Regions from separate parts of the Homo sapiens genome. Here region 1 is linked to region 2. Evidence: fine-mapped expression QTL. A gene starts in region 2. The other region holds a variant in brackets. All regions are shown on one strand. Distances are from middle to middle.

The links. PIP is the estimated chance that this variant, and not a neighbour inherited with it, causes the effect.
Region 1: its variant is fine-mapped to the expression of CORO7 in whole blood (TOPMed, PIP 0.99).

What each region holds. Positions count from the first base shown.
Region 1 is chr16:4,524,503-4,527,400 of GRCh38, reverse strand. The region is part of intron 1 of CDIP1 (cell death inducing p53 target 1); the gene reads left to right. Among named protein-coding and RNA genes, the nearest start is that of CDIP1, 13 kb to the left of the region's middle. The variant G/A (reference allele first, on the strand shown) is at 1,104.
Region 2 is chr16:4,414,793-4,417,690 of GRCh38, reverse strand. CORO7 (coronin 7) reads left to right here and starts at 1,095. Exons shown (of 28, transcript NM_024535.5): 1 at 1,095-1,232. The coding sequence starts at 1,173. CORO7-PAM16 (CORO7-PAM16 readthrough) reads left to right here and starts at 1,095. Exons shown (of 31, transcript NM_001201479.2): 1 at 1,095-1,232. The coding sequence starts at 1,173. It overlaps LOC124903635 (a long non-coding RNA gene), which reads left to right. Exons shown (of 3, transcript XR_007064963.1): 3 at 730-966.

The DNA of each region.
Region 1 (2,898 bases), 110 kb before region 2:
AAGAGCAACAGTGTCACCGGGTGCGGTGGCACTTGCCTGTAATCGCAGCACTTTGGGAGGCCGAGGCAGGTGGATCACGAGATCATGAGATCAAGACCACCCTGGCTAACACGGTGAAACCCCGTCTCTACTAAAAATACAAAAAATTACCCAGGCGTGTTGGCGGGCGCCTGTAGTCCCAGCTACTCGGGAGGCTGAGGCAGGAGAATGGTGTGAACCCAGGAGGCGGAGCTTGCAGTGAGCCAAGATCCCGCCACTGCACTCCAGCCTGGGCGACAGTGCGAGACTCCGTCTAAAAAAAAAAAAAAAAGTAACAGTGTCTTCTTTTTTCTCGTGTACTTCCTCTCTCAGGCTCCTGTGGCAGGCCTTCAGTGGTGTGCTCTTCACCCATGGCCTCTCCCGTGACTCATCACAATTCTTGATAAGGGGCTGCTCCTACCGCCATATCACAGATGAAAAAAAATCTGAGACTGGAGAGTCAGGTGGCAGGGCAGGGTGGTGGGCGTGGGGCCTGATGCCTGTGCCCCACTCGGTGCAAGATTCTGCCCCTGCAGCTCTGCCTGCGACACAGGGCTCATGCTTCTGTTGGAGGGCGCAGTGGTGTTTGGGGCCATGGGGTTGGGCTGATGTCTTTTTTATTTTATTTTTAATTTTATTTTTATTTTATTTTTTATTTTATTTTTATTTATCTTTTTTTTTTTGAGATGGAGTCTCACTCTGTTGCCCAGGCTGGAGTGTAGTGGCGCGATCTCAGCTCACTGCAAGCTCCGCCTCCCGGGTTTGCACCATTCTCCTGCCTCAGCCTCCTGAGTAGATGGGACTGCAGGCGCCCGCCATCATGCCTGGCTAATTTTTTTGTATTTTTAGTAGAGACAGGTTTTCACCATGTTAGCCAGGATGGCCTCAATCTCCTGATCTGTGATCCGCCTGCCTTGGCCTCCCAAAGTGCTGGGATTACAGGTGTGAGCCACCGTGACCAGCTATTTTTTATATTTTGAGACAGATTCTCAGACTATTGCCCGGGCTGGAGTGCGACGGTGTGATCTCGGCTCACTGCAACCTCCGCCTCCTGGGTTCAAGTAATTCTCCTGCCTCAGCCTCCC[G/A]AGTAGCTGGGATTACAGGCGGATGCCATCATGCCCAGCTAATTTTTGTATTTTTTGTACAAACAGAGTTTCACCATGTTGGCCAGCCTGGTCTTGAACTTCTGCCCTCGTGATCCGCCCACCTCTGCCTCCCAAAGTGCCGTAATTACAGGCATGAGCCACCGTGCCTGGCTAGGCTGGTGTCTTATTTCCGCTGAGACTCATCATGGTCGAGGAGGAGCATGTAGGGTTGGGTGGGAGGAGAGCTGGCAGATGGGAAAACCAGATCTGTTTTCTGGTCCTTTCTGTGACTTAAGTTGAGCTTGTTTTGAAGTGTTTAGAATTCCCAAGGCATCAGATACACCCATCTTCAAGTGTAAAAATAAATAAATGGTTCAGAGCCACCCGCGATGTTATCTGAGGGAGGGACTGTCTCGTCCTGCCTCCATCAGGACAATGGGAAATGGGCCATGTTCAGGATTTTCCAGGCCTGCCTGTGCTAGAACTTGGCAGCCGAGGACAACGGTCCCAGAGAAGGGGACACATTGGCAACCTCCCTGAGTCTTGGGAGGGCTCAGCCTCACTAGAGGCTGCTCTGCAACTGAGTGGACCTTTGTGGAGGGCCTCCTCTTTCCTGCTCATCACCCAGCGTTGGGAATAGGGTCCCTCTGGTCAGCTGCGAAAGGCCACAGGGAATCCTGGCCTGGTCCCACATGGACTTGGGTGGCTGGATTAGCCCCAGGTTTGGATAGGGCATGGTGGAGAGGGGAGTGGAGAGGGTTTGGGGCCCAGGAGCAGTCTCACAGCAGGGGCTCCCTTTTGAGCACCTCCTCACTTGGAGCACTTCCTTCATGTCCCTGTGCTGGGCACCTGCATCCAAACAGTGCATGCTCTATTAACGTTCACTGCACGCCATCGTCCTCCTCAGCTCCTCCTTGAGCCAGTGCTCATGCTGAAATGAGCACTGGAGTTGCAGAAGAATGTGTCCTCGCTCCAAGGCAACCAGCTGCACTTCTCTCGGGGCCTGTTTTAACTACGGAAGCATCTGCTCCAGCCTTCCCGCCAGGGAGTATTCCCCATGCCTTGGCCTCTGTACTGGCTGAGGCTGTGTCATGTGACCTAAAGAAAGCCATGATCCTTTTGATCATGGATCACTTGAAGAGAACTTGTGTTCCTTCAGACCTAAGGAACTGTAGAGATATATTTTTGTGGTGGAGGGGGGATAGAGTCTCACTCTGTTGCCCAGGCTAGAGTGCATTGGCGTGACATAGCTCTTTGTAGCCTAGAATCCCTGGGCTAGAACAATCCTCCCGCCTCAGCCTCCCAAGTAGCTGGGACCACAGGTGTCTATCACCATACCTGGCTAATTTTATTTTTTTGTAGAGATGGGATCTTGTTATGTTGCCCAGGCTGGTCTTGAACTCCTAGCTTTAAGCAGTCCTCCCACCTTGGCATCCAAAGTGCTGGAATTACAGGTGTGAGCCACTGCACCTGTCTGTGCTGTATATTTGTAATGACACTTGTTAATACTTAACCTGAAAATAATTTACCAATAATTAACCAGTAAACCAAGTTTTATTACTCATGTGGAAGATGTGGGAGGTGGTCAGTTAGTTGCTGGTGTGGTGTCCCATGGCTGTCCTAGGCACTGGCCTCCATCCCAAGGCCCTCATGGTGAAGCACAGCTACTGGAGCCATGGCATCTATCTTCCAGGTGGTAGATGGGAGGAAGGCAGGAAAGATGAAGGGCCTGGCTCCGGGCTGAGTCGGCTTGCCCTGAATGCCTTCTTATGGTCTGGACACTTCTGCTTACAGC
Region 2 (2,898 bases):
TCTGCCCGAACTAAGATAAAATGTAAGCATTGCTTTTCAAACCTTAGAAATGCAAGAATCAGCTGGGTGCGTTGGCTCATTCCTATAATCCCCACACTTTGGCAGGCCAAGTTGGGAGGACTGCTTGAGTCTCGTTCGAGACCAGCCTGACCATCATGGTGAAACCCCGTCTCTTACTAAAAATAAAAAATTAGTTGGGCGCGGTGGCAGGCGCCTGTAATCCCAGCTATTCGGGAGGCTGAGGCAAGAGAATTGCTTGAACCCGCGAGGCAGAGGGTGCAGTGAGCTGAGATCGCGCCACTGCACTCCAGCCTGGGTGACAGGGACTCCGTGTCAAATAAATGAATAAATACTAAAGAAAAATTAAAAGCTATTATTATTATTATTTTTAGAGGCAGGGTCTCTTTCTGTCTCCCAGGCTGGAGTGCAGTGGCACGGTCACAGATAACTGCAGCCTCGACCTCTTGGGCTCAAGGGATACTCCTGCCTCAGTCTCCCAAAGTTCGGGATTACAGACCTGAGCCACCGCGCCTGGCCGGATGCAGAGCGCCTGGCCGGATGCAGAGGCTTTTGAGTAGGCCCGGTGGACAGGGATTTGCTTTAGACCTGGGCCCCTGTTCCCCCTCTGCCTCTTACCACTGGTGTGACCTGGGGACCGACAGTTTACACTCTCCTTTAGCCGGGGGTTTCCTGTCTCTGAAATGGAGCTAATTTCTCCCCTCTCTACAGGAAGAGGTAGATAGTGCTGGAAGGCGTGCTAGGTACACCGCAAAGACTCCACAGCAAATCCTGCACACAAAATCGCGAATGCTGCAGCCGAGACCCCACGCAAGCAAGCACCGCAGGAGACGTGGGCTGACAGCTGCGCCCCACGTGACCTCCCACCCGCGCCAGTCCGTCCCCTCGGTATCAGGGCGTGGCCTCGCGGGGCGGCCGTACCTGGATTGGCCGGGAGGCGGGACCGGTGGTGCGCGCGCGAAAGGAGAGGGGCTTGGGGGCGTGGCCCAGGGGGCCGGAGACGGCTGCGATTGGCAGTGGGGCGCGCCGGGGGCGTGACCGCGGCATTGGGTCCCGGGTGGGGCCGAGGCAGCGGGAGTCGCGGTTGCTCAGCGTGCACCTGAGACCCGACGCCCGGGGTCCTCGAAGACGCGTCCGCCGCCGTGCCCGTCGCCATGAACCGCTTCAGGGTGTCCAAGTTCCGGCACACCGAGGCTCGGCCGCCCCGCCGCGAGGTGAGTCCGGCCCGAGGACCGGGCGCTGTCGCCTCGGGCCCCGTCCGGCTGCCCCTCCCCCTGCCCGGACCCCACAGGGGTGCCCTCCAGGGCCGTCTGGAACCCCGAGACCTCCATCCCCGGGGAACCCCCCTTCAGGCCAGGGCCCCGGCGTCCGGGCCGTTTCGTCGCCGCCGGAGGGCAGAGTCCGGCACTCCCGTGACTCGCTCTGGCGCTCGGTGACCCTGGCGGTCTGCCCGCCTCGCCCACCTCGCCCCGGGACCCCCGAGGCGGCGCAGCCCTCCTAGCCGGGGCCCAGGCCTGCGAGGCCGCCTGCCTTCCCAGCTTCCGGTCGGCCTCGCCGGGAGCCGGGGCTCGGGGCGCTGCCGGCGCCTGGCTCCTCCTCCCTGCCGCCCCGGGTCGCCCCTGCCCCTGGCTGGGCTGTGGGGAGACGCCCCTCTCTCCTCTGGCCCCGGCGAGCCCAAGTGTGTCAGTGGTGGGGAGGGAGCCCCTCGGCCGCACGCGCCCCTCCCTCGGGTTTCCGCCGGTGCTTCCTCCTCTCGCCGCTGGCGCAAGCTCTTTCTTTATCTCGGTGATGCTGCCACGGCTGGGTGGGGCCTGGGGAAGCCTGAGCAGGTGGAGCCCCAAAGAATTGCTGAGCCAGGTGCCGGGAGACCCTTCGGACCCCCGAAACGGCAGGAGGACTGATGAGGGGTGCGCCTTGGAAACGATGTCAGCTCTGCTCTTCCGCTTTCCGTGTTATTTGTAAGGCCTGGGAGTGTCCTCCGATAACTGGGCCTAGGAGTTGACCTCAAGTGACCCCATCAGGGTCCCAGAGCAAGTCAGGGCAGTCTGGGTAGAGGTTCCGTTTTTGTAGTGTGGACTATATTTCCTCTGCTTCCACTTTATGCTGTGCTAAGCTGCTGGAGACATCCCGGTGAACACAACGGCATTTTCCTTCCCCTGTGGCACTTGTAGCCTCATGAGGGAGACAGCAAGCAGACAAACAAGAGCATTGGAGGTTTTCATAACGACATTGAAGAACACACATGAGGGACTGGGATGGAGAATGGAGGGGGCCAGTCTCAGTAGCGTGGTCAGGAAAGGCTGCCTGGAGTAGATGGCATTTTAGCTGAGGCCAGAAGGGTGAGAATTGAGAAAGAGCCTGGTGGAGAAATGGAAAGTGAGCATGAGTGGATGGAGGGGATGGCCGGAGCAGTATGGTGACAGATGAGTCCAGAGTGGTCCTGCAGAACCCAAGGGCCACCGGAAGAAGTTGGGTTTTATTCTGATTGCAGTGCAGAGCCATTGAAAAGTTAGGGGGAGGGGCTGGATACCATGACTCACGGTAATCCCAGTACTTTGGGTGGACTGCTTTGAGCTCAGGAGTTCGAGACCAGCCTGGGCAACATTGCGAAACCCCTCTGAACAACAAGTTAAAGAAAAAAAAATTAGCCAGGTGTGGTGACTCACTCCCGTGGTCCCAGCTACTTGGGAGGCTGAGGTTGGAGGATCTCTTGAGCCGAGGAAGTGGAGGTTGCAGTGAGCCGAGATTGTGCCACTACACACCAGCCTGGGCAATAGAGTGAGACACTGTCTCAAAAAAAGAAAAAAACAAACAAGAAAAGTTAGGAGGAGGTACCTAGGTTTGCATCAAGACAGCCGGTGGCTCTGAGTGCAGTTAAGT